4 linked regions of the Homo sapiens genome follow. The main gene of each other region encodes a partner of the protein of the gene in region 3 in a complex. Links are inferred from orthologs where the notes say so. Each region holds a gene or a part of one and is shown on either strand. Other genes may lie near its edges. The genes, in order: NLRP5, OOEP, TLE6 and KHDC3L.

Region 1 (7,026 bases), about 53 Mb from region 3:
TGGCACTATTCACAATAGCAAAGACTTGGAACCAACCCAAATGTCCATCAGTGATAGACTGGATTAAGAAAATGTGGTACATATACACCATGGAATACTATGCAGCCATAAACAAGGATGATTTCATGTCCTTGTAGGGACATGGATGAAGCTGGAAATCATCATTCTGAGCAAACTATCGCAAGGACGAAAAACCAAACACCACATGTTCTCACTCATAGGTGGGAACTGAACAATGAGAACACTTGAACACAGGAAGGGGAACGTCACACACCGGGGACTGTTGTGGGGGAGGGAGCATTAGGAGATATACCTAATGTAAATGATGAGTTAATGGGTGCAGCACACCAACAGGGCACATGTATACATATGTAACAAACCTGCACGTTGTGCACATGTACCCTAGAACTTAAAGTATAAAAGAAAAGATGAACAAAGAAAAAAAAATTCAACATCCCTTTATGATAAGACGCAGAAGAAACATAACTCAGAACAATAAAGGCCATGTATGACAAACCCACAGCTAGCATTATACTGAATGTGGAAAAGAAGAAAGCCTTTTCCCTAAGAACTGGCACACAGGGTGCCCACTTCCGCCACTCCTATTTAACACAGTACTGGAAGTCTTAGCCAGAGCAATTAGGGAAGAAAAAGAAACAAAGGGCATCAAAATTGGAGAAGAAGTAGATTGTTCATGTTTGCAGGCAATATAATCTTTCATTTAGAAAAGCCTACAGACCCCACCAAAAGACAGAGAACTGATAAAGGAATTCAGTAAAGTTGCAGAATCAACATACAAAAATGTTGATTTTTGGATAAATTTTTCAGTATGATGCAAGTTTTTATATAATAAATGAACTCAGTATGATGCAAAAATCAACATAAAAACAGTAGCATTTCTAAACACCAATAATGAACTAGCTGAAAAAGAAAGCAATGTCCTTTATAATAGCTACAAAAATGTACCTAGAAATAAATTTAACTAAGGAGGTAAGAAATATCTATAGTAAAACCCACAGAATACTGAAAAAAATTGAAGAGGATAGATAAAAATGGAGACATCTAACGTTCACTGATTAGAAGAATGTTGTTAAAATGGCCATCCTACCCAAAACAATCTACAGATTCAATGCAATCCCTATCAAAACACCAACGACATTCTTCACAGAAATAGAAAAACAATCCTAATATTTGTATAGAACCACAAAAGATCCCAAGTAGCCCAAACAATTTTGAGCAAAAAGAAAGCTGGAGGCATATTACCTGACTTCACAAAGCTATAGTAACCAAAACAGCATGGCACTGTCATGAAAACAGACATAGACCAACAGAATAGATAATTCAGAAATCCATATATTTATAGCCAACTCTTTCTTTTTTAATGTATTTTTCAGGACTTGTTAGAATATTTTAATATTTAAGTTTTTTTAATACTTTAAGTTCTAGGGTACATGTGCACAACGTGCAGGTTTGTTACACAGGTATACATGTGCCATGTTGGTTTGCTGCACCCATGAACTCATCGTTTGCATTAGGTATTTCTCCTAATGCTATCCCTCCCCCAGCCCCACACCCTAGGACAGGCCCCAGTGTGTGATGTTCCCCACCCTGTGTCCAAGTGTTCTCATTGTTCAATTCCCACCTATGAGTGAGAACATGTGGTGTTTGGTTTTCTGTCCTTGCGATAGTTTGCTCAGAATGATAGTTTCCAGCTTCATCCATGTCCCTACAAAGAGCATGAACTCATCCAACTCATTTTCAAAGGCACCAAGATTAGGGAAAGTACACTGTGTTCACTAGGTGGTACTGCGAAAACGGGATAACCATATGCAGAATTAAACTAGACCCCTGTCTCTCACCATATATAAAAATCAACTCAAGATAAAGTACTTAAACATAAGACTTGAAATAATAAAACTACCAGAAGAAAACATAGGGAAAGCTCTTCTGAATACAAGTCAAGGCAAATATTTTGCGGCTAAGACTTCAAAAGGACAGGCAACAAAAGCAAAAATAGACCAATAGGAGTACATCCAACTAAAGAGCTTCTGTACAGCAAAGGAAATAGTCCAAGAGTAAAGAGACAACCTGGCTGGGCACAGTGGCTCAGGCCTGTAACTCCAGCACTTTGGGAGGCCAAGGCAGGTGGATCATGAGGTCAGGAGATCGAGACCATCCTGGCCAACATGGTGAAACTCCATCTCTACTAGAAATACAAAAATTAGCTGGGTGTGGTGGCACGTGCCTGAAATCCCAGCTACTGGGGAGGCTGAGGCAGGAGAATCGCTTGAACTAGGGAGTTGGAGGTTACAGTGAGCTGAGATGGTGCCACTGCACTCCAGCCTGGTGACAGAACAAGACTCTGTCCCCCCTCCCAAAAAAACCCCGCAGAATGGGAGAAAATATTTGCAAAATAATGATCTGGCAAGGAACTAATACCCAGAATATATGAGGAACTCAAACAACTGTATAGCAAAACTCCAAGTAATCCATTTAAGAAGTGGGTAAAAACCTGAACAGACATTTCTCAAAAGACATCCAAATGACCAACAGATACGAAAAAAGATTCAACATTACTCATCATCGCAATCTCACTGTGGTTTTGATTTGCATTTCCCTCTAGTTGGAATGGCTACTATCAAAAAAGACGAAAAATAAATGCTGGCAAGGATGCAGAGAAAGAAACTCCTTTCCACTGTCAGTGGAAATGTAAATTAGCACAGCCATTATGGAAAACAGTGTAGCAGTGTCTCAAAGAACTGAAAATAGATTAATACCCTATGATCCAGCGATCTGGTGATTTACCCGAAGTATATCAAAGGTATGTCTGCACTCTCATGTTTACCACCCCACTATTCACGATAGCTAAGATATGTAATCTACCTAACTGTCCATCAACAAATGAATCAAGAAAACGTGGTATACACACACAAGGGAACATGTTTCAGCCTTCAAAAAATCCTGCCATTTGTGACAACACAGATGAGCCTGTAGCTCTTCATGTGAGCTACAGCCTGTAGTTCATTGTGTGAAGCAAAATAAACCAGGCATGGGAAACTAAATACTGAATGTATTTTACTCATATGTGGGAGTTAAATTGAGCAAATGGGACTATGGAAGTAGGGGATGTAATTGTGGGTATTAGAGGATAGGGGAGAGGAGGGAGAGGGGAGAGGGGAGGTTGAGAGGAGGAGGGGGGAGGAGAGGAGGGGAGAGGAGGGGGAGGGGGAGGGGGAGGGGGAGGGGAGGGGGGGAGGGGAGGGGGGAGGGGAGGGGGGAGAGGAGGGGAGGGGGGAGAGGGGGAGGGAGGGGGGAGAGAGGGGGGAGAGAGGGGGGAGAGGAGGGGGAGAGGAGGGGGAGAGGAGGGGGAGAGGAGGGGGAGAGGAGGGGGAGAGGAGGGGGAGAGGAGGGGGAGAGTATGGCTCATGGGTGCTAAGATTACAGGTAGAAGGGAGAAATGGGTGCAGGTGTTCTGCAGCACTGCAGGTGAATATGGTGAACTATAACTTATTGTCCACTCTCAAAAAGCTAGAAGGGAGGACAGAGTGTTCACAACACAAATGTTTGGGGTGATGAATATGCTAAGTCCCCTGATTTGATCATGATACATTGTATACAGGTATCAAAATATCACTCGGGCCGGGCGCAGTGGCTCACACCTGTAATCCCAGCACTTTGGGAGGCCGAGGTGGGTGGATCACCTGAGGTCGGGAGTTCAAGACCAGCCTGACCAACATGGAGAAACCCCATCTCTACTAAAAATACAAAATTAGCCAGGCATGGTGGCAGGTGCCCGTAATCCCAGCTACTCAAGAGGCTGAGGCAGGAGAATCGCTTGAACCTGGGAGGCAGAGGTTGCAGTGAGCCAAGATTGCACCATTGCACTCCAGCCTGGGCAACAAGAGCGAAAATTCATTTCAAAAAAAAAAAGTCTCCATAAATATGTACAGTTATGTGTCAACTAAAATAAAGGAAAAACTGCAGCAAATGTATCTATTTTTGACAAAGATCAGGGGTCAGCAAATCTCCCAGAAGGAGCCAGGCATTTTTGGCTTTGGGGCCATTTGCTCTCTGCCACCCGTGCTTAGCTGCTCCTGCACTGGGAAAGTAGCTGTAGACAATTTGTCAACAAAGGAGAAAAGCTGTGTTCCAATAAATCTTTATTTACAAAACTGGGCAATGGGCTGGATTTGACACAAGCCCTACAGAGAATCCCATAAGAATGTTACGTGTCATTATTAAAAAGTCAAAAAACCGACGCTGCTGAGGTTGCAGGAAAAAATGGAAAGCTTATACACTGTTGGTGGGAGTGTAAATCAGTTCAGCTATTGTGGAAAGCAGGGTGGAGATTCCTCAAAGAGCTAAAAGCAGTAGCGTTGGACCCAGCCATCCCATCACTGGGTATATACACTAAGAGGAATATAAAGCATTCTCCCATAAAGATACATGCATGCAAATGTTCACCGTGGCACTGTTTACAATAGAAAAGACATGGAGTCAACCTAAATGCCCATCAAGGACAGACTGGATAAAGAAAATGTGGTACACGTACACCATGGAATACTATGCAGCCATAAAAAAGAATGAGATCATGTCTTTTGTGGGAACATGGATGGAACTGGGGGCCATCATCCTAAGCAAACTAAGACAGGAACAGAAAACCAACTACCACATGTTCTCACTTATAAATGGGAGCTAAATAAGAACACATGGACACAAAGAGGGGAACCACAGATACTGGGGTCTACCTGAGGGTGGAGGGTGGGAGGAGGGTGAGAAGCAGAAAGAAATAACGACTGGGTACTGGGCTTAATAACCTGGGTGAGGAAATAGTATGTATAACAAACCCCCATGACACAAGTTTACCTACGTAACAAACCTTCACATGTACCCCCAAAACTAAAAAGTAAAAAAAGAATGTTAGCTGTCAGCACTTCCGTTCAGTTTTGTACTCTCTCCCTATTCTTTATATCTGATATTCCACTATTATTTATATTTACCTAATTTATATTTGATAGGAAAGCAATCAGATAAAGAGGAGGTATAAAAGTGGAAAAAGGTGAAAATTAACATCTGTATGTAGGTATGTATGCCTAATAAATTACTCAATTTTAAATTATATGTAGTTATTAAATTGGGCTGGTAACAAATGTAACGATGAAATCCCACACAAAATCTAATAACCAGTTAAACGTGAGATCAAATGAACAGCAACTATAGAGGTAAAACATGCATAATTTAGAAAAGTGGCTATCTGTTTTGAGAGCTTTAAAATGCGGCTGCTAGATAAAAGGCTCAATGTGGTGAGGCAGAGGCAGATTCCCAACACATCAGTCATCCTCCATCAGTATAATATCATCCAAGAAGTACTGCTGATATTGTTATCAGGACAAGAAACTCAATGTTTCTATGAAAAGCCAAAACTAGACAAGAAAATTCTAAGAAGAATGATATTCACTCTGTTGATGTCTAGGCTGCACTTTAACATCTACGATAGAAGGTCACCATTTCCGGGGGCTAAATTTTGAAATATTTATGTTCATGAATTCCTACTTTACATTTAGCCCCCAAATAATGAGCAAATGGAATAGAAGGTCTCAATCGAATGGTATAAAAGAGACAAGATGACAGATTAATTCAATACAGTACCCTCCTCACTCCAGAAAAACAAACAAATCTTTAAAGTCCCGCTGAAAAAACTGCTGCAAATAAATTTGAGACATGACAAAGAATGCATTACGTAAACAGCTCTTCCAATCCATGATAATGATCAACAGCTCAGCGGAATTTTTTTTTTCTTTGAGATGGAGTTTTGCTTTTGTTGCCCAGGCTAGAGTACAGTGATATGATCTCAGTTCACTGCAATCTCCGTCTCCTGGGTTCAAGTGATTCTCCTGCCTCAACCTCCCCAGTAGCTGGGATTACAGACACCCTCAACCATGCCCAGCTTTTTTTCTTTTTGAGACAGAGTCTTGCTCCGTCGCCCAGGCTGGAATGCAGTGGCACCATCTCGGCTCACTGCCAGCTCCGCCTCCCGGGTTCCTGCCATTCTCCTGCCTCAGCCTCCCGAGTAGCTGGGACTACAGGCGCCCACCACCATGCCCGGCTAATTTTTGTATTTTTAGTAGAGACGGGGTTTCACCGTGTTAGCCAGGATGGTCTCGATCTCCTGACCTCATGATCCACCCGCCTGGGCCTCCCAAAGTGCTGGGATTACAGGCATGAGCCACCGTGCCCGGCCTAATTTTTGTATTTTTAGTAGACAGGGTATTTCGCCATGTTAGTCAGGCTGGTCTCAAACCCCTGACCTCAAATGATCCACCTGCCTCGGCCTCCCCAAGTGCTGGGATTATAGGCATGAGCCACTGTGCCCAGCCTATTAGAAGGATTTTGAAGAGTTAAAAAACTGCATATGACTTTTGTAATCCCAGCACTTTGGGATCCTGAGGCAGGTGGATCACCTGAGGTCAGGAGTTCGAGACTAGCCTGGTCAACATGGTGAAACCGCATCTCTACTAAAAATACACAAATTAGCCGGGCATCGTGGCGTGTGCCTGTAGTCCCAGCTACTCGGGAGGCTGAGGCAGGAGAATCGCTTGAACCCGGGAGGCAGAGGTTGCAGTGAGCTGAGATCTCACCATTGCACTCCAGCCTGGGCATAGAGTAAGACACTGTCTCAAAAAAAAAAAAAAAAAAAAAAAAAAAAGAAAAAAGAAAAAAAAGAAACGGCATGACTTTTAAATGTACTTTAAAAAAAAGTTATTACTGATAAGGTAAATAGCCAAAATGATGTACTACGTTTGACATGTGAGGCTGACAATGTCCACAATGTGTGACTGGACGCTGCTTTGTGATGGGTGAAGGAAAAGGTGCTCCTACATTAGTGAAGTGTAAATGGGTGCCATCTTTTTGGACGGTACTTTAACAATCTTTATCCGTTTTAAATGCAATTAGACCCAGCCGTGTGTAAAACAGCAAGACTGAAGACCATTTAGGAGTCGATTAAAAACAGGTGGGTTAATTTGA
Region 2 (6,661 bases), on a different chromosome or scaffold from region 3:
ATGTCGTAATCCCAGCACTTTGGGAGACCAAGGCAGGAGGGTTGCTGGAGCCTAGGAGTTCCAGACCAGCTTGGACAATATGGTGAAACCACATCTCAAAAAACAAAAACAAAAAACTCCAGACTATGATCACACAGGCAAATATACAGAGAAGGTAAGGTGAAAGGAGAAGTATGTGTTTGACTACAATTTCAGGGCTGGGGGCAGGCCTGGAATCTAAGCCTTCTTTACCATCTCTGCAACCATCATCATTTGTTGCTGGTAGGATTGGGATTGGCTTCAAGTTTTGGTCCTGTAGATCTGATTGGCTCTGTACCACAGAAGTGGAAAGCTGGGCAAACACATGGGAGTGGGTCCTGGAAAGGGCCTAGTCATACTGGGGCCTCTGGGGTTCCACATCACTGGATGAAGGCAGCCAGGCATTACGACTTTCATAGACTCCAGGTACTTTTAATGGAGCCCCTTTCCTCCATTAAAAAAATACATAAAATTGTACGTTATCTTTATTTTATTTTTTTAGAGATGGGGTCTCTGTCACCCAGGCTAGAGTGCAGTGGTGCAATCATAGCTCACTGCAGCCTCGACCTTGTGCACTCAGGCTATCCTTCCTCAGCTTCCCGAGTAGCTGGGACTACAGGCGCATGTCACCACAACCAGCTAATTATTTTATTTTTTGTAGAGACAGGTCCTCTCTATGTTGCCCAGGGTGGTCTCAAACTCCTAAGCTCAAGTGATCCTCCCGCCTCAGCCTCCCAGTGATGGGATTACAGGCATGTATATATATTTTAAAAATATATTTAAAAAATATATTTTTGGCAAAGCGCAGTGGCTCAAGGCTATAATCTCAGCACTTTGGGAGGCCGAGGTGGGTAGATCACCTGAGGTCAGGAGTTCGAGACCAGCCTGGACAACATGGTGAAACTCCACCTCTAGTAAAAATACAAAATTAGCTGGGTGTGGTGGTGCATGCCTGTAATCCCAGCTACTTGGGAGGCCTAGGCAGGAGAATCACTTGAACCCAGGAGGCGGAGGTTGCAGTGAGCCAAGATTCGCCATTGCACTCCAGCCTGAGCAAAAGAGCAAAACTCCGTCTCTAAATAAATAAATAAATAAAAAATAATTGCATACTTAAAATCTTCTGGCCCTGGCCAGTTGCAGTGGCTCATGCCTGTAGTCCAACATTTTGGGAGGCCAAGGCAGGAGGACTGCTTGAGCCCAGGAGTTCGAGACCAGCCTGGGCAACATAGGGAGACCTCTGTCTCTACAGTGGGTGTGATGGCATGCACCTGCCTCAGCTACCCAGTGAGCTGAGATCGTGCCACTGCACTCTAGCCTGGGTGACAGAGTGAGACCCTGTCTCAAAAAAGAAAACAAAAGAAGAGAAGGAGCCCTCTTCCTTTCTCCGCCATCGTGGTGTGTTCTTGACTCCGCTGCTCGCCATGTCTTCTCACAAGACTTTCAGGATTAAGCGATTCCTGGCCAAGAAACAAAAGCAAAATCGTCCCATTCCCCAGTGGATTCGGATGAAAACTGGAAATAAAATCAGGTACAACTCCAAAAGGAGACATTGGAGAAGAACCAAGCTGGGTCTATAAGGAATTGCACATGAGATGGCACACATATTTATGCTGTCTGAAGGTCACGATCATGTTACCATATCAAGCTGAAAATGTCACCACTATCTGGAGATTTCGACGTGTTTTCCTCTCTGAATCTGTTATGAACACGTTGGTTGGCTGGATTCAGTAATAAATATGTGAGGCCTTTCGTTTTTAAAAAAAAAAAAAAAAAAAAGGAAAGAAAAAGAGAAGGTGAGAAAGAATCTTCCGGCCCTTAAGAGCTCTGTGAAACGTCAGTTTGCTCTGGCCGCTTTCCCATTTTGATCTCGGGCTGGCGTCAGGCCCACTGCAGGATCCCTGGCACCCCAAGAAGCTAACCCAGATGGCGGGAAAAGTGTTCTATTAACCCAGCCAAGTTGGCTCAGTGCATCTCTCCACCTCAGTCTCTGGTGTTGGCTTCCATGCACTCGGGAAAACTGCCCACTTGTCCCCAGGCTTCCAAGGAGGCCCACGTGACTGACTGAGCTCCCAAAAGGTTTTCTTGCACAATAGCCCTCCTGTTTTGGCAGGCTCAGGTGCAAAGGCCTATCGGTCTCCCCAAAGCTGAGAGATGCGAAACCAACACTTGCGAATCAGATTCTGGCCTCTCACTGAGCAGGGAGGTTCTTTCCTCAGGGGAGAGCAGTAATCCCACAGGATCATTTCTTCCTTGAGGAAGAAATAACTGAACTAGCCACTGTTGGGCTACACCTGAGACTGAGTTGTATCTGAGACTAACTGCTTCACGGTGTCCAGCATGCTGGGGATTTATGTGGGGTTTATGGCAGAAGATCCCCACAAGATAATGGGGTGCCATCTTTTCCACACCAGGAAGTGGAATTTGAGAGAAGTTAACTTATTCCTGTGTGGCTCAGATCACCACAGTCCCCCTAAAGAAGCTGTTAAAATTCTATACATGCTGGGTAAAATATTCTTTGTCTACAGTAATGTAAGTGCGTCTCATGATTAGATTAAGGCTTTAATTTTTTTAGGTTTATTTTTAGGGTCTCGCTCTGTCACCCAAGCAGGAGTGCAGTGGTGTGATCATGGCTCACTGCACCCTCAAACCCCTTGGCTTAAGCGATCTGCTAGCCTCCACCTCCTAAAGGGCTGGGATTACAGGCACGAGCCACAATATCTGGCCTTGATTAGGTTAAGGGGTTTTTGTTTGTTTTTTGAGATGGAGTCTCACTCTGTAGCCCAGGCTGGAGTGTAGTGGTGCCATTTTGGCTCACTGCAACCTCTGCCTCTGGGGTTCAAGCAATTCTCCTGCCTCATCCTTTCGAGTAGCTGGGATTGCAGGTAACCACCACACACTGGCCAAATTTTTTTATTTTTATTTTTTTTTATTTTTGAGACAGAGTTTTGCTCTTGTTGTCCAGGCTGGAGTGCAATGGTGTGATCTTGGCTCACGACAACCTCCGCCTCCTGGGTTCAAGTGATTCTCCTGCCTCAGCCTCCTGAGTAGCTGGGATTATAGGCATGCACCACCATGTCCGGCTAATCTTTTGTATTTTTAGTACAGACTAGGTTTCTCCATGTTGGTCAGGCTGGTCTCGAACTCCCGACCTCAGGTGATCTGCCCGCCTCAGCCTCCCAAAGTGCTGGGATTACAGGCATGAGTGACCGTGTCTGGCCCACACCCATCTAATTTTTGTATTTTTAGTAGAGACCGGTTTTCTCCATGTTGGTCAGGCTGGTCTCAAACTCCTGACCTCAAGTGATCCTCCTGCCTTGGCCTCCCGAAGTGCTGGGATTATAGGCATGAGCCACCTTGCCTGGCCAGGTTAAGGTTTTAAATGTTTATTGCATCAGAGCCATAGCTAAATCTTGTTTTCCTGTAAGTATGCCCTGCACACCTGATAGTCAAGTTTTCTCAGAAACCATTGAGGGTGAGAGGGGGTGGGATCAGGGGCAGAAAACTGGAACCTCCACACAGTCCTAGATGATCATGTGGAGTCTGGAACATGCTTTTCACTATTTTGAGTTTTTTCTTCTATGCTGGCTGTGGTGGCTCACGCCTGTAATCCCAGCACTTTGGGAGGCCAAAGTGAGAGGACTGCTTGAGCCTAGGAGTTCAAAACCAGCCTGGCAACATAGTGGGACCCTGTCTCTACAAACAGACAAACAACAACAACAACAAAAAGAGCTGGAAAATAGCTGGGTGTGGTGGCAGGTGCCTGTGGTCTCAGCTACTCAGGAGGCTGAGATGGGAGGGTCGCTTAGGCCTGGGAGGTCGAGGCTTCAGTGAACCGAGATCGTGCCACTGCATTCCAGCCTAGGCAAGAGAGTGAGACCTATCTCAGAAAAATAGAAGTTTTAAAACAAACACATAGTTAATTGTAAGAACGAAATAGTATATTCAGCAGATACTATTCTGAAACAACCAAACAATATTTCTACAAATATAGTAGAAAATGTGTAAGGACATGCATGGGGATGATATATACACACTAGCTTCAGGATGATTTCCTCTGGAGAAGGAAAGGAAAGATGCTTGAGTAATATCTGTTTTAAAAACAGAGGAGTGAGGCAAATGTGGGGAAATGTCAACATCTGTTAAACTCGGGGAGGGTACATGGCCGTGTTATATTACTTTTTTGGATGTGTGAAACCTTTCATAATCCAAATTTTTAATTAAAATTACAAACATTGGGAAAAAATGTCCATCGATAATGGTTGTCTTAGGATACTGGAAATAAAGGAAAATTGTCTAACTTGCTACATGTTCTATAAGACCACCTCTGACGTGTTGTTTAAAACATGACACACTTGCTTGAATGATTTAAAAATGGTAACCATCCGGAGAGTCAGAAGATAACAACAGGGAGCAGAACAGAGAAAACTGACACATTGAACAAGCCTGCCCTGGGTCCGATATACCTATCTTTGGGAGGCAACGATGAAACCTTAACCTAGCCAGCAAAGGTGATTCCCAGTCTATTAATAGAGTCGTCAATTCAAACTCACACTGTTAATCAGCTATAAGGTGGGCAGAGGACTTTCAGGCTAAGCATACCTTACGAGCAGAGATGACGAAGGAGAGCATTGGAGACCCAACAGGAGGCCAAATGAATACTAGTTCAAGGTCAAAGAGGCAATCCCGGCGATTGAAGCAGCGCAGGAAGTGTCCAATGGTGCCGCTATGCCGGGGCGTCGCTTGCACCCGCTCACCCCGACGCGGTGCGAGGCGCCGCCGGAAGGGGCGGAGCGGGTCGAATATGGTAAAAGAGAGCCCGAGCTTCGCGCCTGGGTCTGGAAGAGGTCTTGCGAAAGCCGCCTCGAGCGCGCTCCGCGGCTGCTGGTCCCAGTATGGTCGATGATGCTGGTGCCGCTGAGTCCCAGCGGGGCAAACAGACTCCGGCCCACTCCCTGGAGCAGCTGCGTAGGTTACCACTTCCGCCGCCACAGATTCGCATCCGGCCCTGGTGGTTTCCGGTGCAGGAACTGAGAGACCCTTTGGTGTTCTACCTAGAGGCATGGCTGGCAGACGAGCTCTTTGGTGAGCGACCCCAGGTGTGCTAGTGGGCTGTCCACCTCCAGTCTGAGAGAGGCTTGGCAGAGCAGCTCTCTACAGTCTCTTTCCCAGATTCGCAAGCCAGGAGTGTTGCAGTGATGCCCACCTTCCAGTTCTTCCCTTCCCTGGCCAACATTCCCTTCAAATCCAGCTTCTAACCTGCCACCGTGCAGCCCCTCAGAGTTTTTCCTTACTTGTTTAGGCCCAGACCGAGCCATAATTCCAGAAATGGAGTGGACGAGCCAGGCCCTGCTGACAGTGGACATAGTGGACTCAGGGAACCTAGTCGAAATCACCGTTTTCGGGCGGCCCCGTGTACAGAATCGGGTGAAGAGCATGCTCCTGTGCCTGGCATGGTTTCACCGAGAACATCGTGCCCGAGGTGAGGGTCTTTGAGAACCTGCATGTGGAGGAAGCCACGAGTGACCATACTGGCCTTGCTCGGTTTCCTTCCATCCTCCCTTAACCTTCTCAAAATTTCTTGGTTTCCAGACCCCAGGGAGCTAGCTGTACGAAGTTTGTTGGGAGGGGATCCTGGGGTAGGACCTTGGGAAAGTCAGCAGAGATCTGATAGATTCAGACCCATCACTGCCCAAGTCAGCCTCACCTGGGTTACAGCACTATCGCAGATCTTTCTCTCCTCCCCAACTCCCAGTCACGGAGTAGTTCGAAACAGCAAACACTTGTCCCTGTCCATGGTTAGTATCAACTGCTTCTCTTCCAGCTGAGAAGATGAAACACCTTGAGAAGAACTTGAAGGCCCATGCATCAGACCCCCACTCTCCCCAGGATCCTGTTGCTTAAGACAACATAGTTACTGTTGGGAACATCTTAACTTTCTAACTTTTGCTGCTAAAGTTGAAGAAAAGCAAGTATAGCATTCTTAAATCCCCGTATTCCTTTTTCCTGTGTCTTGATGGATTGTGGTTTATTTTGTTGCAAGAGTGAGTTTGAACTATTCTAATAAAGAAATGGCTATTTTGCCAAAAGCATTAAGATCTTCACACACTTATAATAAAGCAAATTTATAAAAGATTGACTCCCACTCATGTTTTGATATGAAGGGTGGGCAGGTGATAGTTTTGTAGGTTTTTGTTTTTGTTTTTTTTTCCTGAATTCCCATCATTTTGAAACTCCTAATCCTTTTATGATTTTCTGGTCAGAGAGAGGCCCTCACCCACAGGGAGCGGATATGCAGGGGCAGATAACCTCACAAATGGTGATCTGTTTTGTTTTTACATAATTGGTCCTCAAACTTTAAAGCTTGTAAGAAATCACCTTGGGAGCTTGTTAAAACACAATTTCCTTGGCTCCTTCTCCAGAGAATTCTGATTCAGTACTTTTGGGGTGGGGCTTAAAATTTCATTTCTGATGAGCTCACACATACTACTAAAGCAGCTTATCTGAGGCTCTCACTTTGAAGCTGGTAATTGATCCCCCGAAGAGCACCAGCTGTGCGTTTTCCTGGAGTGGGGCATCCATTGGGCAGAGGATGACGTTGCAAGAAGCAAGCCTGGGCGGTCAGCGTTCATTAATGGTAGTTTTC
Region 3 (7,160 bases):
CGGTTTCACCATGTTGGCCAGGCTGATCTTGATCTCCTGACCTCAAGCAATCCGCCCGCCTCCGCCTCCCAAAGTGCTGGGATTACAGGTGCGAGCCACCATACCCAGCCGTTGCAGTATTTTTCAACAATAAAATTGAATGCCAACAAATCCATGTCGAACAGGAAAATCAAAATTTTAATATTTGTTGGTAATTTTGTTTAATCAAAAGCTGGGATGGGTATTGCCGGGTTCTCCATGCTGGGTATCTGCATGGCTTCCTGTTCCTGAGCCTGGCTCTTGGGCCAGCAGCCTCTAGACCACTCACTAGGACCCCCGGGAGAGAGGCCAGGTGGGGCTCCTTCCCAGCGTGAGACCTCCGGCCCCTGGAATTGCTCTCACCTGGGGAACTGCTTGAGCCGATTTAGAATGCCCTGATAATTCAGCGTCGGAGAGCTCTCAGAGTTCGAGATCCCAGGACAAGGCTGGAAAGGTCAAAGCAAGGTTACATAAAACTTACAATGCTCCAACACCCAAGACCCCCGGTCTCCACCTCAACATGGCATAGGCATTAGGTTGGTGCAAAAGTAATTGTGGTTTTTGCTTTTTTTTTTTTTTTTGGAAACCGAGTCTTGCTCTGTCGCCCAGGCTGGAGTGCAGTGGCACAATCTCAGCTCACTGCAAACTCTGCCTCCCGGGTTCAAGCGATTCTCCTGCCTCAGCCTCCCGAGTAGCTGGGATTACATGCGCCCGCGCCCCCCTCCCCCGCCCGCCCCCGGCAACACACCTGGCTTATTTTTGTATTTTTAGTAGAGATGGGGTTTCACCATCTTGGCCAGGCTGGTCTCAACCTCCTGACCTCATGATCTACCCGCCTCGGCCTCCTAAAGTGCTGGAATGACAGGCATGAACCACCGCGCCCGGCCTCTCTTATTTCAGTAAAGAGCATCTTCCATTTTGCACTTTGGCCTAAAGTCTAAAATGTTCACCACATTCTTGTGATGAAAATAGAAGCACAAAATATTTTTAAAAATAAAAGTCCGGGCAAGGTGGCTCATGCCTGTAATCCCAGCACTTTGGGAGGCCGAGGTGAGCAGAACACCTGAGGTCAGGAGTTTGAGACAACCCTGGGCAACTCAGCAAAACCCCGTCTCTACTGAAAATACAAAAATTAGCCGGGCGTGGTGGCGCGCACCTGTAATCCCAGCTACTCGGGAGGCTGAGGCAGGAGAATCACTTGAACCTGGGAGGTGGAGGTTGCAGTGAGCCGAGATCGCGCCACTGCACTCCAGCCTGGGCAACAAGAGCAAGACTCAATAAAATAAAGTCTCTTGGCCAAGTGTGGTGGCTCACACCTATAACCCCAGCACTTTGGGAGGCTGAGGCAGGCAGATCACGAGGTCAGGAGCTCGAGACCAGCCTGGCCAACATGGTGAAACCCAGTCTCTACTAAAAATACAAGAAAAATTTGGTGGTCATGGTGGCAGGTGCTTGTAGTCCCAGCTACTCGGGAGGCGAGGCAGGAGAATCACTTGAACCCGGGAGGCAGAGGTTGCAGTGAGCTGAGATTGCGCCATTGCATTCCAGCCGAGGTGAGTGTGAGACTCCGTCTCAAACATAATAAAATCATAAAGTCTCAAAACAAAATATCCCTCATCTGACTCCTTTACAAAAAAAAACGTCTGCTCAGCCCTGAGAGCCTAAATTTACAAATGGTCATCTCTGGGACGCAAAGTGCAGGGAGCGGGGATTGCTTGTAAAACATCAACCAAATACATGATGTGTTCCTGTGTTTTTATCACATATGTGATTAGATGCTACATTTTTTTTTAGATGGGATCTCACTGTCACCAAGGATGGAGTGCAGTGGCACCATCATAGTTCACTGCAGCCTCAAACTCCTTGGGCTCAAGCCAACCCTCTGCCTCAGCCTCCCAAGTAGCTGCAACTACAGGCCCACGTCACTAGGCCCAGCTGATTCTTCTAGTTTTATTTTTTACAGAGACAGGGTCTCACTACGTTGTCCAGGCTGGTTTCAAACTCCTGGGCTCAAGTGGTCCTCCTGCCTCGGCCTCCAAAAATGTTGAGATTACAGTTGTGAGCCACAGTGTCCAGCCTACACTTAATTTTTTTTAAAAAACACGGCTCCTTGGCACCTGTCTTGAGTGTAGCAGCGACCAGTATTGTCTTCAGCTGCGAGGCCTGGGCGGGGCCAGCCCAGGTCACAGGTGGAAAAGGGGCAGAACCACATTGGGCCCGGGTTTCCCTTGAGGGCTGATCCCACCACATGCCCTCCTCACCGAAGTGCTTTTCGGGGGGCCCTTGGGTCTGGGCTGGTCCCTAGAGGTCATCTTCAAGGCAGTAGCCTCCAAGACTTTAGCCAGAGTCTAAAACAACAAGGAGACGGCAGGTCTTGAGGGACAGAAAATAAGGCAGTGCCAGGGAAGCAAGGCACCCGTTACCCCACCCGCACCTCCCAGTTTGGTAAGTCTCCAGGGACCCAATCCTGCGGTTCTCCCATGCGTTCCCTAGGTCCTGTCCTCACTTATCAATGCCTCCAGCTGCCCAGATTCATGGGGGCGGGGACCCAGAAAGAACTGAGCCTTGCCTCCCAGGCCTCACCCTAGGAGGCTGGGGTGGATAGTGCACATACACTCCCTGCTGGGGGCAGTCAGGGACGGGGGAGCCCAGGGAAGGTCGCCAAAGCTCAACCTTAGTTTTGAGACAATTTCCTAAAGCGCAGGGAGATCACTAGAAAGGGGTTTTGAAGGATGACTAGGAGTTAGCCAGGTGCATTAGGCGGAATTCATCAGACAGAAGAAACGACCTCTCTCCACCTCCATCCCTGCTGCAGCACCCAGCTTCTTCCTTGCCTCAGTCCTGCCCCTCCACGCCCCTGCAGCCCCTTCCCCGGCCGGGAATCCTGGAGTCCCCCCAGCCCCCTAGAACACGCCTGGCAACTCACGTCCCTCACCGGGCGGAAGCTGCGGAGGTCAGCCAAGTTCAGGCCAAGAGGAAACTCCTCCTTCCCCCACCGGGGGCCATTTGACCCATCGGGCCCCGCCTCGTCCCGCCTTGTCCCCGCCCCGTCCCGCCCAGGCCCCACCCAGCCGCCACCTGGACCGCGAAGCAGATCAATGAAGGCGCAGTAGCTGCACGTGGGTTCGGGCTCCGGGGGGGGCAGGCCTCTGGCGGCGCCGGCCAATAGCGAGGCCGTTTACGCACGTGGGTCGCGTACGCCCTCCCTGATTGGTCGGCTCTCCCCGGCCGCCGGCCATGCTGTCACTCAGCGAGCCGGGAGCCTCTGCTTTACCCTTTCGGTCCCGCTGCCGGGAAGGGCGGACTTGCAGAGCTATAGGCAATTTGGGGTCCCAGCGGGGGCGGGGATATTTAGGAGGGCGTGGGGCTTGAGGCTCAGAGGCTGGAACTTGGGCAGGGATAGGTGGCGAGTAGTTGCATTGTTTTACGCATTTTTAGCCTTGTCCGGAAGTGGCTTATGGCTGGAGGTGAGGAGTGGGAGGTGGGTGGGTTCAATCTTTAGCGCTGTCACCCCAATTCTTAGATACGGGCTAATTACATTTTCCTCAATATTAAATAACGTGCAATGCAAACGAAGCTTCAAGTCCTCTTTCTGGAGCCAACTTACTGGGTCCCCTTGATGGTCCCAGCCCCGGGCTATGCATTTATCACCGAATTTTCCCAACTGCTCTTCCAGCCCAGTGACAAAGGCTCTGAGAGCAGAAAGCGGGACAGCAGAGGCCCTGAGGCTGATACAGTATTGCCGGATGCAAGCGCGGGGTGGGAGAGAGTGGTGGGTATTCCAGACGGAGGGAATAGCGGAACCTCTCAGGCAGAGCTGGGCTGGTTACAGGAGCAGCCAGGGAGGCTAACGGGGCTGCGTGCACTCCGAACAGGCCTGGGATGATTTCCGAGAGGTAAGTGGGTTGCTGCAGAGCGAGAGAAACCTGCTGTGTGGGGTCGTGGGGATAGGAGTAAGGGGATTTCGGAGTTTTGTTTTGGCCTATTCAAAATATGAAGCCAAGTCACCATGGCTCACACCTGTGATCCCAGCATTTTGGAAGGCTGAGGTGGGAGGATTGCTTGAGGCCAGGAGTTGGAGACCAGCCTGGGCAACACAGTGACACCGCGTCTCTACAAAAAATTTAAAAATTAGCCAAGTGTGGTGGTCATGCACCTGTAGTCTCAGCTACTGGGGAGGCTGAGGCAGGAGGATGGCGTAAGCCCAGGAGGTTGAGTCTGGAGTGAGCTATGATCGTGCCACTGCACTCCAGTCTGAGCAACAGAGCAAGACTCCATCTCAAAAAAATATATAGCTATAATATATATAAAGTATATATATTATATATATAGTGGTCAAGCTGCAGTTCTGGAGTGAGAGCCCGTTTCTTTCTGTTTGGCCCAGGACCTGGTACTGGCATTAGCAGTTCACTCTGCCAGGGACAGTCTCTCTCAGACAGCCACCGGCTGGCTCCTTACTCCCTCAGCTCCCTACTTAGAAATCACCACGTTGGGCCAGGTGCTGTGGTGCACGCCTGTAATCCCAGCACTTTGGGAGGCAGAGGTGGGTGGATCATCTGAGGTCAGGGGTTCGAGACCAGCCTGGCCAACATGGTGAAACCCCAGCTTGGCCGGGTCACACCTGTAATCCCAGAACTTTGGGAGGCCGAGGCGGGTGGATCACGAGGTCAGGAGATCGAGACCATCCTGGCTAACACGGTGAAACCCCATCTCTAATAAAAAATACAAAAAAATTAGCCGGGCGTGGCGGTGGGTGCCTGTAATCCCAGCTACTGAGGAGGCTGAGGCGGGAGAATGGCGTGAACCCGGGAGGCGGAGCTTGCAGTGAGCCAAGATTGCGCCACTGCACTCCAGACTGGGCGACAGAACAAGACTCTGTCTCAAAAAAAAAAAAAAAAAAAGAAAACCCCAGCTCTACTAAAATACAAAAATTAGCCAGGCATGGTGATAGGCACCTGTAGTCCCAGCTACTCTGGAGGCTTAGGCAGAAGAATCACTTGAACCTGGGAGGCGGAGGTTGCAGTGAGTCGAGATTGTGCCACTGCACTTCAGCCAGGGTGACACAGCAAGACTCTGTCTCAGAAAAAAAAAAAAAAAATCACCACATCAGGCCAGGCGTGGTGGCTCACGCCTGTAATTCCAGCACTTTGAGAGGCCGAAGCAGGAGATCACTTGAGGTCAGGAGTTCCAGACCAGCCTGGCCAACATGCTGAAACCCTACCTCTACTAAAAATACAAAAATCAGCCGGGCACGGTGATGCACATCTGTAATCCCAGCTACTTGAACCTGGGAGGCAGAGGTTGCAATGAGCCAAGATGTCGCCATTGCACTCCACCCTGGGCGACAGAGTACTCTGCCTCAAAAGAAGAAAAGAGTTCATGACCAGCCTGGCCAACATGGCAAAACCCCATCTCTACTAAAAATACAAAGGTCAGCTGAGTGTGGTGGCAGACGCCTGTAATCCCAGCTACTTGGGAGGCTGATGCAGGAGAATCGCTTGAACCCGGGAGGTGGAGGTTGCAGTCAGCCAGGATCGTGCCATTGCACTCTAGCCTGGGCAACAAGAGTGAAACTCCATCTCAAAAAAAAAAAAAGAAGGGAGGGAGGGAGGGAAGGAAGGAAGGAAGGAAGGATCTCATTGAAGAGACCTCCCAACCCTCCCTTCCCTTCCCTATATTTCCCTTTATTTCCTCTTTTTTTTTTTAAACACAGGGCGAGGGGGAGGGGAGTCTCAGTACATTGCCCCGGCTGGTCTTGAACTCCTGACCCCAAGTGATCCTCCCACCTCCACCTCCCAAAGTACTATGGATTACAGGCATGAGCCACTGTGCCGCCACCGGGCCTGTATCTCCCTTTCTTATTTTATTTTTTTCCGAATGTGGTTTGGATTGCAGCTAATCTTGTAATCTCAGTGGCTCCTGTGGCGGGAGCCTCCCACGATAGCTCTAAGCCCTGCATGTTCTAAATGCAGAGAATGCTGTCAGGATTCTCCTACAGAGACGCCTCCCATCCTCTGACCTCCCCATGTGACACAAATGCCCGATAGGTCTGCTGACTTCAGATCCAAACCCAGCCAGAGAAACTCTTCCCTGTTTTCTGTTCTGTGCTCTCTCGCTGCGGGGAACTGAGGGTTTCAATGCTGGGACAAGTAGCCCCCAGAGGTGGTGATGTGCACACGTGACTTGGGTTTTGCAGCTGGTCCATGGAGAACAAAGGGAGGGGCCGTCATGAAAGACCTGCAGAAAAGCTTCCCACCCACGAACCCTCCACTGTCCCATAATTATTATTTTTTAATTTTTATTACTTATTTTTTTGAGACAGAGTCTCTCTCTGTCCCTCAGGCTGGAGTGCAGTGGCGCGATCTTGTCTCACTGCATCCTCCACCTCCCAGGTTCAAGCGATTCTCCTGCCTCAGCCTCCCAAGTAGCTGGGACTACAGGCGCCCGCCACCACACCCGCCTAATTTTTGTATTTTTAATAGAGATGGAGTTTCACCATATTGGCCGGATCGGTCTCAAACTCCTGATCTTGTGATCCACCTGCCTTGGTCTCCCAAAGTGCTGGGATTACAGGTGTGAGCCACCACGCCTGGCTATTATTATTATTTTTTTGTGACAGAGTCTTGCTCTGTCGCCCAGGCTGGAGTGCAGTGGCACGATCTTGGCTCACTGCAACCTTTGCCTCCTGGGTTCAAGCGATTCTTCTACCTCAGCCTCCTGAGTAGCTTGGATGACAGGCGCCCGCCACCACACCACCTCCAGCTAATGTTGTATTTTTAGTAGAGATGGAGTTTCACCATGTTGGCCAGGATGGTCTCAAACTCCTGACCTCAAGTGATCCACTCATCTCGGCCTCCTAAAGTGCTGGGATTACAGGCGTGAGCCACTGCACCCAGCTGCATAATTAAAGTGTGTTTTATTTATGGTCCAGCCTCCTAATATGGGCTTTGCTTTTTCCCCTCCCTCTGATTGTAGACTTTCAGCTGGGCACGTTGCTTTATCCAAGACTCACAGGGTTGTCTCACAGGGTATCCAGTAAGCACATGTGGCTATTTAAGTTAAAATTAATTAAAATGAAATACAATTTAAAATTCCATTCCTCAGGCACCCTGCCCGCATGTCAGGCGCTCAGTCGTCACTGG
Region 4 (6,274 bases), on a different chromosome or scaffold from region 3:
ATGTTAAAGATCACTTCTGCTGTAGGTCTGGGTTGCAGCAAGTGTCTTAGAGGACATCTGGCCATTGCATGGGCTCTGCTTGCCACCCATCGGTACTTGCATTTCCAAATAATGACTTTTTAGAAAGGTGGAACACTTAAAAGCATATGCATTGCTTTTAAAAGCATATGCATTGCTTTTATCCAAAATTAATGTCAATGTTTATCATATTATAATGTTAGCAACAAGGCTGGTGAGTATATAGGTTGGTTCGACCTCGGAGGGATGCCATTTGGCAATACCTTATCAATTGGAAATTTACAGATCCTTTGACTCAGCAATTCTACATTTGAAATTTCATCCTATAGTTATACTCCCCCTTGTAAGAAATGACATGTAGAAGGATACTGATTTCAATAGCATTACTAGCACAAGTAAAAGATACCATACAAGGTAAATATTCACGAAGATTGGGAAAAAATACATATTAAAGAAATAAGGCTGGGTTCCGTGGCTCATGCCTGTAATCCCAACACTTTGGGAGGCTAAGGTGGGAGAATCGCTTGAGCCCAGGAGTTCGAGACCATCCTGGGCATATAGTGGCCATGTTGCAGGCACTGAGACATGATGAAACCCCATCTCTATTAAAAATACAAAAATTAGCTGGGCTTGGTGGCGGATGCCTGTAATCCCAGCTACTCGGGAGGCTGAGGCATGAGAATCGCTTGAACCCAGGAGGTGGAGGTTGCAGTGAGCCGATATTGCACCACTGCACTCCGGCCTGTTGACACAGCGAGACTCCATCTCAAAAAAAAAAAGACAAAAACAAAAACAAAAAAAGACCAGCCTGTCCTAAAAAAAAAAATTAAAACAAATTAGTTGTGATGGCACATGCCCGTGATCTTAGCTACTTAGGAAGCTGAGGTGGGAAGATCACTTGAACCCAGAAGTTGGAGGCTGCTGTGAACTATGATGGGTCACTGCACGCTAGCCTGGGTGACGGAGTGAGATGCTGTCTCATCAAAAATAAATAAATAAATAAATCCATTATCAATATCTAGAAAAACAAAACTTTGTCAAGAAAAGAAATCATAGTATATACAACTATGAATAGTTTACAAAGTCGTAATAGTGCGAACACTGAATATTGATCTAACAAAATCATATCTCTGTTTTAAGATGATCTAGGTCTGATGCACATAGTTAAGTCCCAGCTTACCTGGGTTGGAAGAGGGTGAAAGATAGTGGTAGATATATAAATCCTAGCCTCCCAAAGTACTAGGATTACAGGCTTGAGCCACCGTGCCCCGTCGTTTTTTGTTTTTTTTTTTTTTGTTTGTGTGTGTGTGTTTTCTTTTTTCTTTTTCTTTTTCTTTTTTTGTTGAGAGGGAGTCTCGCACCGTCGCCCAGGATGGAGTGCAATGGCGCAGTCTGGGCACATCGCAACCTCCGCCTCCCAGGTTCAAGCGATTCTCCTGCCTCAGCCTGTCGAGTACCTGGGATTACAGGCGCCAGCCACCACGGCCAGCTAATTTTTGTGTTGTTAGTAGAAAGGGATTTCGCCATGTTAGTCAGGCTGCTCTCAAACTCCTGACCTCGTGATCCGCCTACCTCGGCCTCCCAAAGTGCTGGGATTATAGGTGTGAGCCACTGTGCCCGGACTTCTACGTCGTTTTTTGACATTTTTTATTTCTTTTTTTTTTTTTTCCGAGACAGAGTCTTGCTCTGTCCTCCAGGCTGGAGTGCAATGGCACGATCTTGGCTCACTGCAACCTCTGCCTCCCGGGTTCAAGCAATTCTCCTGCCTCAGTCTCCCGAGTAGCTGGGATTACAGGCCCCTGCCACCACATCTCGCTAATTTTTGTATTTTTAGTAGAGATGGGGTTTCACCATGTTGGCCAGGCTGGTCTTGAACTCCTAACCTCAGGTGATACGCCCGCCTTGGCCTCCCAAATTGCTGGGATTACATGTGTAAGCCACCACGCCCGGCCTGTTTTTTGACTTTTTTTTTTTTTTTTGAGACGGAGTCTCACTCTGTCACCCAGGCTGGCGAGCAGTGGCTCAATCTCAGCTCACTGCAACCTCCACCCTCTAAGTTCAAGCAATTCTCCCGCCTCAGTCTCCCAAGTAGCTGGGATTACAGGCACCTGCCACTGCGCCCGGCTAATTTTTGTATTTTTAGTACAGATGGGGTTTCACCATGTTGGCCAGGCTGGTCTTTAACTCCTGACCTTGTGATCCACCCGTCTCAGCCTCCCAAAGTGCTGGGATTACAGGCATGAGCCACCATGCCCGCCCTGTTTTTTGAGTTTTTAATAAAAGTCATTGTGACTGGTGTATGATGGTATATCGGTGTGATTTTAATTTGCATTCCTCTTCTGATTAGTGATGCGGAGCATTTTTTCATGTGTTTGTAGGCTGCCTGTATTTCTTCTTTTGAGAAATATCTCTTCATGCTCCTTGCCCAGTTTTGTTTGTTTGTTTTGTGGAGACAGTCTCGCTCTATCCAGCAGGCTGCAGTTCAGTAGCCTGATATCGGCTCATTGCAACCTCCGCCTCAGGAGTTCAAGCGATTCTCATGCCTCAGCTTCCTGAGTAGCTGGGATTACAGGTGCCCGTCACCATGCCCGGCTAATTTTTGTATTTTTAATAGAGACAGGATTTCGCCATGTTGGCCAGGCTGGTCTAGAACTCCTGGCGTGAGCCACTGTGCCCGGCTTTGCCCCATTTTTAATGGTTTTTTTTTTTCTTGTTGTTTTGCAAAGTACTTTAATCATCTCAATTAGCAAGTAAGAATTTCCCAACTACTAAATCATTCCTACATATGAAATATATTCAGCCGGTTGGGCATGGTCTGAATATATACATTCGGCCTATTAATGTGGCAAACCTGAAGTTCTCTTCAGTGTTTCAATACTGAATAAAAATAAATTATAAATTATAATTTGTCTTATAGCAACACATCTAAAACAGTTATTATTATTATTATTTTTGAGACAGGGTCTCACTCTGTCACCCAGGGGGGAGTGCAGAGGCACCATCACTGCTTACTGTAGACTCAGCCTCTCTGGGATCAAGGGATTGTCCCACCTCAGCCTTCCGAGTAGCTGGGACTACAGGTGCGTGCCACCTAGTCCAGCTAATTTTTGTATTTTTTGTAGGGATAGGGTTTTATCATTTTGCCCAGGCCAGAAGGATTGCTTGAGACCAGCTTGGGCAACATAACGAACCCTTGTCAGAAAGGGAAGGGGAAAAGAAAGGAAAGGAAAAGGGAAAGGAAAAAAGAAAGGAAGGAAGAAAGAGACAAATATAATTGTGTTATTTAGAGAACAGAGGCATCACTGGGCATGGTGTCGGGAGCTTGTAGTCCCAGCTACTGGGGGAGCTGAGGAGGGAGGATCTCTTGAGCCCAGGAGATGGAGGCTGCAGTGAGCTATAATCACACCACCGCCCCCTAGCCTGGGTGACACAGAGAGACCCTGCAGCAAATTTTAAAAATTAAAAATAAAAAAGAGAATAGAGATGTCAAAAATTTTCAAGGAATCTCATCTTGTGTCCAAACCACGAGAACTATCTGTGGTTAGGTGTGTTCATGGCTGCATTAATTAAAAGCGTGCTATAGTCCCACTACTGGGGAGGCTAAAGAGGGAGGATTTTTTTGAGCCCTGGAGTTCGAAGCCAACCTGGGCAACATAGCCAGGCCCCATAACTTTTTTTCTATCCATTTTTTTTTTTTACTATGCAAATCTCACTACACAGACCCTATAACAGAAAAAAAAAAGAAAAAGAAAGAAAAAAGGCGGGCGCTTATTCTGCTCTGTACTCAGCAGTCTCAGGCAAGTGACAGAATAATCTGAAAACCTGGTCCAGAGGGAGGAAACGTAGTGGCCAGGGATCAGAAGCGCGTGAGGGACCTATGAAGTATTCATTCTGCAAGTATTAGTTCTTTCCTCTGGGAGAGATACTGGGCTTGCCCACGCCTTCCTGAGTCCATGGTTAAGACTCCCGCTGGGCACCAGCGGATTCCTGGTGCCCAGAGCCCGGTTCCTCCTACCGGGTGCGCTGGGAAAAGGGCTGCTCCTGACAGAAGGGACACTCTAAGAGCAGCCCAGGAACCGGTGCACTTGGGCGGCCTCGGAAGAAGCCGGGGCTCCTGGAGGCGGAGGCGAGGCCTGGGACCCAATAAGAAGGGCGCGGCTAGAGAGGAGGGGCTGGCCAAAAGCCCTTGAAATAAGGCCCAGGCAGAACCGCGGTTCTAGTCTCCCAGCTCCAGCTCGGCCTTTGGGTTTGCTGTGGTGTCCTTGTCTCCTGCAGGACCGGCCGCAGCATGGACGCTCCCAGGCGGTTTCCGACGCTCGTGCAACTGATGCAGCCAAAAGCAATGCCAGTGGAGGTGCTCGGTCACCTCCCTAAGCGGTTCTCCTGGTTCCACTCTGAGTTCCTGAAGAATCCGAAGGTAGTTCGCCTTGAGGTTTGGCTGGTGGAAAAGATCTTCGGTGAGTGGACCAAGAAGGGGCAGCCCCCATGCGGCTTCTTTCTGCCACCCATACCCACAGCCCACATATTCTGGCTGCGTTCCAGGGCGATCCTCACCAGTAGCCAATGCCCTCTGGCTGTCTCCTCCTTCCACCTTCCCCTCCCAAGACCCCCGGGAGCCACCGGTCCCTCACAGCCTCTCTGCTACCCGCGCAGGCCGGGGCGGAGAACGCATCCCGCACGTCCAGGGTATGTCCCAAATCTTGATTCACGTGAATCGATTGGACCCTAACGGCGAGGCTGAGATCTTGGTATTTGGGAGGCCTTCTTACCAGGAGGACACAATCAAGATGATCATGAACCTGGCTGACTATCACCGCCAGCTCCAGGCGAAAGGTACGGGGCTGGGAATAGGGCTACCTGGAGCAAACCCTGGCTCCGTAGGAGTGATCCTGGGGTTTCCTGGCTGCTGGGGCGGCAGTCTCGCCCTCCCAGTCGGCCTGCGGTTGGTGGGTGGGGGAGGGGGCGGTTCTCGCTGCCACGGATCCAGAAGGCCAAATTGAACCCTCGTTCTGGGATTTCTGGCTCCTACTCCCGCAGGCCGCTTGGGTGACTGTCCTTTTTTGGAGAGGATATAGAGACACAGCTGTGGCCTCTGCACACTGCTCTTCTTCCAGGCTCAGGAAAGGCCCTCGCCCAGGATGTCGCCACTCAGAAGGCCGAGACCCAGCGGTCTTCAATAGAAGTCCGGGAGGCCGGGACGCAGCGTTCGGTGGAGGTCCGGGAGGCCGGGACCCAGCGTTCGGTGGAAGTCCAGGAGGTCGGGACACAGGGTTCTCCGGTGGAGGTGCAGGAGGCCGGGACCCAGCAGTCTCTCCAGGCTGCCAACAAGTCGGGGACCCAGCGATCCCCCGAAGCTGCCAGCAAGGCAGTGACCCAGCGGTTTCGCGAGGATGCCCGGGACCCAGTTACTAGATTATGAAGGCATCTCAGGCCCTGGAGCCAGAGCCAGTCAGGGGTTAAAGTGAAAGCCCGTATTTCCGCCCAGAAGCTGGGGTTGGGGAGAGGATGTGGATTTTTTGTTTTACCCTTTCTGTTGCATGGTTGCAAACACAAACTTGAGTTCTAATAAAGAATTGCAAAGTGGAAGCCCGCCCCCCGCCTCCCCCCCGCCTCACTTAAGTCCAGGAAGCTGGGGTGGCGAGGAAGGATGATGTGGATTGTTTTTGTTTTACACCTTCTGTTGAATGGTTGCCAACACAAACTTGAGTTCTAATAAATAATTGCATTTCCCTAACGTCTGTATTTTGGAAGGTAGAGGGGAGGGAAAGGCGCATTCCTCCAACAGCCCAGTTCTGCCCTGCGCAGCCCTCTACCTCGAGGCAGGTGGGGCCTGTGGTTCCTAGCCGCCCGAGGTGGCCATCTTCCCCGGCTGTGGTCCGGTGTGCCCCTTGTACTCCTTAACCGCGCGCATCTGGCTTTAACAGGTGAGAAGCCTCTCTGGCCCACTAGGAAATCTCTCCAAGCCCGCTGTCGTTCTACTCAAGGTGACTTGGGATGAGAAAACTGGGTCGCTTGGGGGCCAGCTGGATTTGGAAGGCCCTGGGTGTATTGCTACTCTGTCACAGAACACTTTCTCAGCTGGGGAAAATGACATCGGGGAAGGGGGAAACGAAGAGACCCGAGCTGCACTCTTGGGCTGCACTGTTGCAGTCTTCAGGTCTTGCTTGGGTCACCCACCTTCCACGAAGGTCGTGGACACCAGCAAGATACAGGCATCGGCTACTCTTTCCTCAGTTACTATGGCAGCGAGAAGCCC

The links.
Region 1: the proteins of TLE6 (region 3) and NLRP5 are in contact, whole or in part, in a cryo-EM structure (PDB 8H94), measured with the Mus musculus proteins. The link is inferred for Homo sapiens from one-to-one orthologs. Residues at the interface, in NP_444484.1 of Mus musculus: Pro147, Gln148, Pro149, Val150, Cys158, Gln159, Phe161, Leu162, Ile163, Gly165, Leu166, Trp167, Leu169, Phe170, Ser173, Arg174, Gln175, Lys176, Asn177, Ala247, Asp248, Lys249, Phe250, Lys252, Pro253, Ser255, Trp256, Leu261, Glu262, Cys265; in NP_035990.1 of Mus musculus: Gln185, Phe188, His283, Arg307, Glu326, Lys327, Lys329, Ser330, Ser334, Pro335, Leu336, Met444, Ala447, Glu448, Trp451, Tyr465, Tyr507, Tyr508, Glu511, Glu515, Asn517, Phe520, Phe522, Leu540, Met543, Lys544, Leu547, Val571, Lys574, Leu575.
Region 2: the proteins of TLE6 (region 3) and OOEP are in contact, whole or in part, in a cryo-EM structure (PDB 8H94), measured with the Mus musculus proteins. The link is inferred for Homo sapiens from one-to-one orthologs. Residues at the interface, in NP_444484.1 of Mus musculus: Trp256, Ser258, Phe304, Thr305, Arg306, His307, Val318, Asn320, Val322, Asn323, Glu332, Ser333, Asn354, Ser355, Arg356, Leu373, Ala374, Ala375, Pro376, Ser377, Leu378; in NP_080756.1 of Mus musculus: Arg32, Pro33, Trp34, Trp35, Pro37, Gln39, Glu40, Glu67, Trp70, Met71, Gln73, Gln94, Pro95.
Region 4: TLE6 (region 3) and KHDC3L share a complex: the UniProt entries of both Homo sapiens proteins name them as parts of the subcortical maternal complex.

What each region holds. Positions count from the first base shown.
Region 1 is NC_000019.10:55,989,760-55,996,785, reverse strand, and holds part of NLRP5 (NACHT, LRR and PYD domains-containing protein 5), read right to left. Parts: intron 1-7,026. UniProt on the Homo sapiens protein: Component of the subcortical maternal complex (SCMC), a multiprotein complex that plays a key role in early embryonic development.
Region 2 is NC_000006.12:73,368,042-73,374,702, reverse strand, and holds OOEP (oocyte-expressed protein homolog), read left to right. Parts: upstream 1-4,805; 5' UTR 4,806-4,910; coding exon 4,911-5,100; intron 5,101-5,317; coding exon 5,318-5,497; intron 5,498-5,839; coding exon 5,840-5,919; 3' UTR 5,920-6,148; downstream 6,149-6,661. UniProt on the Homo sapiens protein: Component of the subcortical maternal complex (SCMC), a multiprotein complex that plays a key role in early embryonic development.
Region 3 is NC_000019.10:2,973,404-2,980,563, reverse strand, and holds the start of TLE6 (transducin-like enhancer protein 6), read right to left. Parts: upstream 3,001-7,160; 5' UTR 2,954-3,000; exon of another isoform or gene 2,945-2,953; intron 2,367-2,944; 5' UTR 2,331-2,366; coding exon 2,280-2,330; intron 465-2,279; coding exon 382-464; exon of another isoform or gene 157-381; intron 1-156. UniProt on the Homo sapiens protein: Component of the subcortical maternal complex (SCMC), a multiprotein complex that plays a key role in early embryonic development.
Region 4 is NC_000006.12:73,358,424-73,364,697, forward strand, and holds KHDC3L (KH domain-containing protein 3), read left to right. Parts: upstream 1-4,234; 5' UTR 4,235-4,306; coding exon 4,307-4,475; intron 4,476-4,671; coding exon 4,672-4,851; intron 4,852-5,132; coding exon 5,133-5,437; 3' UTR 5,438-5,748; downstream 5,749-6,274. UniProt on the Homo sapiens protein: Component of the subcortical maternal complex (SCMC), a multiprotein complex that plays a key role in early embryonic development.